Linked DNA regions of Homo sapiens: region 1 is linked to region 2. The links come from fine-mapping of genetic effects on gene expression. A gene starts in region 2. The other region holds a variant in brackets. All regions are shown on one strand. Distances are from middle to middle.

Evidence for each region. PIP is the estimated chance that this variant, and not a neighbour inherited with it, causes the effect. A credible set is the group of variants that fine-mapping cannot tell apart.
Region 1: its variant is the best candidate, but not a certain one, in a credible set for the expression of THPO in skeletal muscle (FUSION, PIP 0.55).

What each region holds. Positions count from the first base shown.
Region 1 is chr3:184,307,810-184,312,044 of GRCh38, forward strand. It overlaps PSMD2 (proteasome 26S subunit ubiquitin receptor, non-ATPase 2), which reads left to right. Exons shown (of 21, transcript NM_002808.5): 19 at 81-207; 20 at 640-758; 21 at 899-1,241. The coding sequence ends at 1,081. Among named protein-coding and RNA genes, the nearest start is that of EIF4G1, 4.7 kb to the right of the region's middle. The variant G/A (reference allele first, on the strand shown) is at 1,952.
Region 2 is chr3:184,376,652-184,380,873 of GRCh38, forward strand. THPO (thrombopoietin) reads right to left here and starts at 1,556. Exons shown (of 6, transcript NM_000460.4): 1 at 1,424-1,556. CHRD (chordin) reads left to right here and starts at 3,403. Exons shown (of 23, transcript NM_003741.4): 1 at 3,403-3,815; 2 at 4,041-4,144. The coding sequence starts at 3,668.

The DNA of each region.
Region 1 (4,235 bases), 69 kb before region 2:
GGGAGATTTCTGTTTGGCTGGGTTAGGCGATGTCTCCTCAGTGGTAACTCCTCACCTCTACTTCCCTCTGTTTTTTTCAGGGCCTGACACATTTAGGGAAGGGCACCCTTACCCTCTGCCCCTACCACAGCGACCGGCAGCTTATGAGCCAGGTGGCCGTGGCTGGACTGCTCACTGTGCTTGTCTCTTTCCTGGATGTTCGAAACAGTGAGTTCCTGTCAGAAATTTTATATCATAGCATGCAGGGCTCTGACTCCACCCTTTCCAGGGCCACTTTGATAATTTAGGTTCAAGACCCCAGTTTAGCTCTGTATCGCTCTAGGTTTCTGAGACAGGCTTTGGGCCTGTGACATGAGACTTTCATCACCCACACTTTTGATCTGGCCCAAAGAGATTTGAGGGTGATGTGCCCAGCGTCTGCTCCTAAGTCACTGGGGAAATGCGATTTTCAAGTCTAAGGGCTGTAAGCAAAGTGAGGTGGGGGCGTCTCTGGTTCGTAGTAGGGTGTATGAGGGGAGGAGTGTGGATTCAGTCGTATGACTGACGGGTTAAAGGGTCAGCGCTGAGGTGGGCTCTCAATGTTTCTGGCCAGGCCTGTCTTTTTGTCTCTTAACTTTTTGTCCTGTCTGCTTCCCTCAGTTATTCTAGGCAAATCACACTATGTATTGTATGGGCTGGTGGCTGCCATGCAGCCCCGAATGCTGGTTACGTTTGATGAGGAGCTGCGGCCATTGCCAGTGTCTGTCCGTGTGGGCCAGGTGAGAGGCTGAGTAGAGGGGAGGGCTCAGGCTGTATTCTCAAACTGGAGAATGTACATATACTTGCTTTGCTGAAACTGGCGTGGGCGGTGGCTTGTCGCTACTTTTCCATCTCTCTTTTCAATTTTCTTACCCTACAGGCAGTGGATGTGGTGGGCCAGGCTGGCAAGCCGAAGACTATCACAGGGTTCCAGACGCATACAACCCCAGTGTTGTTGGCCCACGGGGAACGGGCAGAATTGGCCACTGAGGAGTTTCTTCCTGTTACCCCCATTCTGGAAGGTTTTGTTATCCTTCGGAAGAACCCCAATTATGATCTCTAAGTGACCACCAGGGGCTCTGAACTGCAGCTGATGTTATCAGCAGGCCATGCATCCTGCTGCCAAGGGTGGACACGGCTGCAGACTTCTGGGGGAATTGTCGCCTCCTGCTCTTTTGTTACTGAGTGAGATAAGGTTGTTCAATAAAGACTTTTATCCCCAAGGTCTCTCTGTGTCTGTTTTCTGGGGTGTCATGGCTGGAGTCTAAACTAGAGTAAGGAGTGGAAGTGAGAGGGCATTGTTAGGAGCAACGCTGAGTTTAGGTTAGCAGCACTGCCCTGGATGGAAAGAACTGAGCCCCTTCCCTCCCCTGGGTGGAAAAAACTAAGCCCCTCCTTTCTAATCATCTTCTCTTTGCATTTTCTTAGAACCCTTGAGAAGCCAATAAATGTAATGGATCTTCTTTTTGTTTTGTTTTGTTTTGTTTGAGACAGAGTCTTGCTGTCTCCCCCAGGCTGGAGTGCAGTGAGGCAGTCTCGGCTCACTGCAACGCCTGCCTTCCGGGTTCACGCCATTCTCCTGCCTCAGCCTCCCAAGTAGCTGGGACTACAGGTGCCTGCCACCACGCCCGGCTAATTTTTGTTTTTTGTTTTTGTTTTTTTGAGATGGAGTCTCGCTGTGTCATCCAGGCTGGAGTGCAGTGGTGCGATCTTGGCTCACTGCAAGCTCCACCTCCCGGGTTCACGCCATTCTCCTACCTCAGCCTCCCGAGTAGCTGGGATTACAGGCACCTGCCACCACGCCTGGCTAATTTTTCATATTTTTAGTAGAGACGGGGTTTCACCATGTTAGCCAGGATGGTCTCGATCTCCTGACCTTGTGATCCGCCTGCCTCAACCTCCCAAAGTGCTGGGATTATAGGCGTGAGCCACC[G/A]CACCCGGCAAATTTTTGTATTTTTAATAGACGGGGTTTCACCATGTTGGCCAGGATGGTCTCGAACTCCTGACCTCAGATGATCCACCTGCCTCGGCCTCCCAAAGTGCTGGGATTACAGGTGTGAGCCACCGTGCCCAGCCAATGGATATTCTTCCTAGGAGACGCAAATACACAAATTTTTACACAAACTCTTCCAAATAACTTCAGGGGGCTTGTGGATCCTGTAAATAACCCCCCACACTCACCCTCCACCACCAATACACCCTCTTCAAGCCTATCATCTTCTGACCTTGGGCTAAGGATGCCCAAGAGTGGGCAGCCTCATACTTTTCTAACTTGACTTACGTGCTACTGAATGAAAAGGACATCTTTACCTCCCGCAACCATCTGTCCCTCTTGGGAGGCTGCTATGAGGAATTTGATCATGTTAACATCTACTTCTAGGATGTCCTTGTAGAAAGTGGATTCAAGAAGGCTTGACCCTCAGCCTCCCAAGCAGGTAAGGTAGGGCTACAGGTGTGTACCACCACTTCTGGCTTTTTTTTTTTTTTTTTGAAATGGTCTCACTCTTATCACTCAGTCTGGAGTGCAGTGGCACAGTCATAGCTCACTGTAGCCTCAAACTCCTGGACTCAAGTGATCCTCCTGACTCAGCCTCCCAAGTAGTAACTAGGACTATAGGCATGACCCACCACAGCTGGCCTACTTTTATTTTTGTGGAGGTGGGGGTTTTGCTGTGTTGCCCACGCTGGTCTCAATCTCTTGGCCTCAAGGGATCCTTCCACCTCAGCTCCCAAAGTGCTGGGATCACAGGCATGAGCCAGTATGCCTGGCTATTTATTTATTTATTTATTTTGAGACAGAGTCGTGCTCTGTTGCCCAGGCTGGAGTGCAGTGGCGTGATCTCGGCTCACTCTGCGTCTGGGGTTCAAGAGACTGTCTGCCTCAGCCTCCTGAGTAGCTGGGACTACAGGCATGCGCCACCATGCTCTGCTAATTTTTGTATTTTTAGTAGAGACGGGGTTTCACCATGTTGGCCAGGATGGTCTCGATCTGACCTTGTGATCCACCTGCCTCGGCCTCCCAAAGTGCTGGGATTACAGGTGTAAGCCACCACACCTGGCCCAGTTATTTTATTACTAAATTTTTTTAGAGACAAAGTCTCACTTTGTGGCCCAGGCTGGAGTGCAGTGGCATGATCATGGCTCACTGCAGCCTTGAACTTCTAGGCTTAAGTGATTCTCCCACATCAGCCTCTCAGGTAGCTGGGATTACAGGCATGAGACATCAGCAATTTTGGATTGAGTCATCTTGGCAGCCTGTATAAAAAGGTTGAAACAGGATTAAGGAATCCCTGTTGAGCCCCTTTATGGTTCCTGCCATAATCTTCAAGTTAGCATGTGTGATGTGATGAGCCTCTGTTATTATATAATGTGGATATAGTAGTTGCCTTACCTGATTTCCAGTGGTGGTGATGTTAGAATAAAAAGTGATTTGTAAACTAAAAAGAATGATTCTCTCCCAAATTGTGATTTAGGTGATTGTGCTTTAGAATAAGACAGTTTCATAGTGGCTTTTAACCTTTCACCTTTAGTTCTTCATTCATCAGTGAATAGCAGTGGAGCCTTACTCTGCATCAGACATTCGTCTAATTTATGGGGATGCAAATACAGAAAAAAACCCCTATGCTCAAAAAGTTTAATGAAATGATGAAAACAACTGTGATCGATACTTACCAGGGTGTGAACAAGGTACCCTGGTATCACTGAGATGGGGCCTAAGTGCCTGGGGCAATCGGGGGACTTTGAGGAAGCTTATATCCTTAGAGGAAGATAAGTTTGTACAGAGGAAAAGAGGGCAGAATATAGCTAAGGGAGTAGCAAAGGCAAGAAGGAGGAAAAGCTGTTTTCAGAAACTTACAGATAATTTGGTTTGGCTAAATGTATAGGGGCCAGGGAAAAGGGTGGTAGGAGATACAGCTGGAAATTCAGGCTCAGACTAGGTTTACAAGAGCTTTGTTGTGCTAAGAATTTGACAGTATCTTTCAATGGGGCCCACTGAATGAGAGCAGAAAAGTGACATGATCAGCTATCTGGGTGAGAAAGCTAACCCTGGAGGACAGGAGAGCAGGCAAGGAAAATGAATGCTTGAACTAAGGCAGTTGAAATGGGGACATAGGGAAGGGTAGAATAGTTATTTTTTAAAAGATAAGATCAATAGGACTTGATTTTGATCCAAATACCAGTAAGACCTGGTGTCTGATTAGATGTAGTGTGTGGAT
Region 2 (4,222 bases):
CTCACTAACATGGTGAAACCCCGGCTCTACGAAATACAAAAAAACTAGCAGGGTGTGGTGGTTCATGCCTGTAATCCAAGCTACTTGGGAGGCTGAGACAGGAGAATCGCTTGTACCTGGGAGGCGGAGGTTGTGGTGAGCCGAGATCGCACCATTGCACTCCAGCCTGGGCAATAAGAGTGAAACTCCGTCTCAAAAAAAAAAAAGAAAGAAAGAAAGAAAGAAAGAAAGCAAGAAAGCATATGGTGTCTCCTTTTTGTCAGGACTCCTCAGTGAATCGGACATGGATTTGGTGCCACCTACCCCTGCTGAGAGCAGCAGGACATGATATGTATACACACATATCTTAATTAGCCTTAAATTCTGAGCAACCTTGGTTGTTAGGTCAGAGAAAATCTGGGATGGGGATAGAGAAGGAAAGTATTGTGGCTTCAGCCTGGAGAAGAGAGTGGAAAATGGGATGCAGGGCCTGGGTGAGGAACTGGCAAACGGGCGCAATATGTTGAGGGGTAACTTCTGCGGTGGGGAGTGGGGCTGGGGAGGGGAACTGCACAAAGCTGTAACTGGGACCACTAGAGGTCAGGATTAAAAGGCGGTATGGGAGAAATTAACCTCTATTCTTTCCCTATCTACCCCCACACATAAAGCCACTGGAGCTTTTCTCTGGACTCCAAGTCCTGAAATACTCCATTATCTGAGGCCAAGAGATGGGCTAACAGTTCTGGGACTTCCTTCCTGAGACCAGCTGCCCAGGAACGGGCACCTGCTGGGTGATGCCCACCTTAGGGGCTTACCTTGTCTTAGGCGCCCACTAACATATCTGTCTCATAGCTCACACCTGCCTCCCTGCCCCCTTGGCAGAACCCCTTCCGGTTCCTTCACAGGACCCCCCACATGGCTTCCTCCTCCTTTCACAAGTTGTGCAAAGAGGCTTGCACCTGATTCAATATTGGGATTTCCTGTAGGTCTGTCAACATGAGTGGGCCCTCCTCCCATTACCCTCTCCTTGCGCCCTGGCTTGCCTGGCCCAGCTTCCCCAGCACCAGATTCAGAACCTTAAGCTAACGAGGAATGACCAGCTAAGAATGGGGATTGGGGCTGTGTCCATCTTACTACTGTGTTTGCTAAGCCCTAAGTGCAGCTCCCTCTCTTATTTTCTCCCTGGGCTCATGTCCCCTTTCCTTAGGGCCAGCCAGGGCTGTGCTGTATTCCACCAAGTAAGTGATCAGTCCCTCAGAAACCAGCACCCCACCCCCTACCCCTGCTCTGCCCTGCTCCTCCCATTCTGGGAAGGCTACACTCTTCTCGACAAAGGTCAGTGCCTGTAGGTTCCAGTTTGCCTGCCCCTCCCCCAGCTGGGAGCCCATTTCTCTTTGCTGTCCTTTCTACCCTCACATAACCCCACACCCTGCTGGCCACTCACCGGGTGGAGAAGGGCTCCAGGACCCAAGTGCACAGCAGGCAGCCCTCTGGGGAGCAGATGGGTAGGAAGACATGTGGCGGTGGGGCACAGCCCCTCCACAGCAGCAGGTCATACGCCTGCCTGGGCCACTTCTGCCCAATCAGAGAAGGGAGCCACCAGACACTGGTGAAGGCCCCCGGAAGTGACGCCTTCTCTTCCCTGGAGCCCCTGCCTGGACCAGGGTCCACTCCTCCACCCACACACACCACGGAGAAGATTTGGATAGGGGGATCCATCTTTTCCTGGACATGGGCAACCTGGGACCTGGAGGGGGACAGGAGCAGAAGTTTTTTTCCAGGAGGAATCTGGCAGGACATTTGTGTTGCTGGGGAAGAAGCACAGAGGTCTTGTTTAAGATTGGTGGGGTTTTCACTCCCTGGCTATCCAAATTTCTTTTCCCTGGACATCATACCTGCTGCTGAAATCCAACAGGATGCTTGCTTTCCTGCTTTTCTTTCTGTAATCCCCTAGGGAGTCCTATCTTGTCATTCCCCCTTTCGAAGTGGGAACACGGATATTGCCCACATGAGAGAAATCTCCTGTTATGGGTTGGTGTTATGGGGAAAGGGTTTGGACGGGTTGAGTGGACTGTCAGGTGCGGGGCACATGTATGTGCGCACACGTGCACTGGGTTAAGCCTGAGCTTAGGTGCTCGTCTGCTGGGGTCCAGTGGCTTAGATGGCTACACACACAGACCTCTGTGCCCAGGGCCCTCCTTTGCTTGTTCTGTCTCCGTCTTCCATCTCCTACCGTTCCACATGTGACAAGAGGAATAACCAGGCCCATGTGTCCCTGTCTTAGGAAAGACAGCTGCTGGACCTCCCCCGCAAATACCTCCCTGCTGGCCCCCCTTTTCCTTTGGCCCTGGCTCTAGCTCCTTTGCTTTCTTCCCAGTCCCAGTCTCCCCACAGTCTCTGTCCTCAGGGGCTTCCTGGCCTGACCTTGATCCCATCATCCCCCTGTCCCCCAGAACTTCCTCAGGCTCTCTCCTGTTCCTCCTCCCCAAGGATGGGCATGTCTGCTGAGAAGTGTGGCCTAGATCCTGGAATTTTCCCGTCCAGCCAGACGAGATGTCTCCCAAGATTAGGAAGGAGGGTGCTGGGATAGCTGGGAGGATAGTGGGTGTGTGTGGGAGGGAGAGACAGGAGACAGGGAGGCAGGCATGACCAGGGAACCAAGAGAAAGGAGGCTGGGAGTGGGCTGGAGAGGCAGAGGGTCCCTTGGGTGAAGGAAGGGGGTGAGAAAGCAAGAGGGGACTGTCGAATGCGCCTGAGGATAAGTTACAATGAGAGGGAGATACTGTCACTCCACAGAAGGGGGAATGCTGCCGGTTTCTGGCTAGGTCCCTGTCCTGGGTAACACAAGAATGAGGAGCGACCTCAGAGAGAAGGTAGGGAGGCAGGCTAGGCAGTGAGAGAGGGTGGTGAGGGTTTGGGGGGCGCTGTGGGCCCAGGCAGGGGGAGATCGGCTGATGGACCTTTCCTGTACGTTGTCATCTTTAAAGACAAGTCTTCATCCTTCGGGCGGAACCGGGTCCTCGCTCACAGAGCGGTCCAGGCCTCAGGCCTAGCCTCTGCCCCTCCCTAGCCTGAGGCTCCCTTCCTGGGCTGGACACCGACCTCCTGGTCCAGCCGCCCTGTGGCCGCCAGCAGCGGGGGGCTCCGGGCCCGCCTCTCCTCCCCCTCTTCGCGCCCCCTGGTCCCTCCCCTCCCCCTCCCCCGCTCCCCCTTCCCCTCCCGCCCCTCCCTCCTCCCCTGCCCGGTCCCAGCCCCTCCCTCCCCTCCCCCACCCGCGATCCGGGCCGCTGCTGCTGGGTCGGACCCCCCGGGCTCAGCCCGGCCCCTCGCCGAGCTGCCGCCGCCGCCCCGTTTGCTGAGGAGGAGGCCCCCGGCCGGGGCGTCGGGCGCGGGGCATAAAACGGGCCGGAGCCGGCGCCCGGGGCAGTAGAGCCGCGTACGGCCCGGGTCAGCGCCCGCCCGCCCGCGCTCCTCCCGGCCGCTCCTCCCGCCCCGCCCGGCCCGGCGCCGACTCTGCGGCCGCCCGACGAGCCCCTCGCGGCACTGCCCCGGCCCCGGCCCCGGCCCCGGCCCCCTCCCGCCGCACCGCCCCCGGCCCGGCCCTCCGCCCTCCGCACTCCCGCCTCCCTCCCTCCGCCCGCTCCCGCGCCCTCCTCCCTCCCTCCTCCCCAGCTGTCCCGTTCGCGTCATGCCGAGCCTCCCGGCCCCGCCGGCCCCGCTGCTGCTCCTCGGGCTGCTGCTGCTCGGCTCCCGGCCGGCCCGCGGCGCCGGCCCAGAGCCCCCCGTGCTGCCCATCCGTTCTGAGAAGGAGCCGCTGCCCGTTCGGGGAGCGGCAGGTAGGTGGGCGCCCGGGGGAGGCGCGGGCGGGGAGTCGGGCTCGGGGCGAGTCAGCGCCAGCCCGGAGGGGGCGCGGGGCGCAGGTGGCTCGGCGCGGCGGGCGGCCCGGAGGGTGGGCGGGGGCAGAAGGGCGCGGTGCCTGGGACCCGGGACCCGCGGGCAGCCCCCGGGGCGGCACACGGCGCGAGCTGGGCAGCGGCCTCCAGCCAAGCCCGTCCCCGCAGGCTGCACCTTCGGCGGGAAGGTCTATGCCTTGGACGAGACGTGGCACCCGGACCTAGGGGAGCCATTCGGGGTGATGCGCTGCGTGCTGTGCGCCTGCGAGGCGGTGAGTGCACCCCGCGGCCGGCCCGGGCCCTGGCGGGTGGGGAGCGCCGGGTCGCGCGGGCGTCGGAGTGGACTCGGA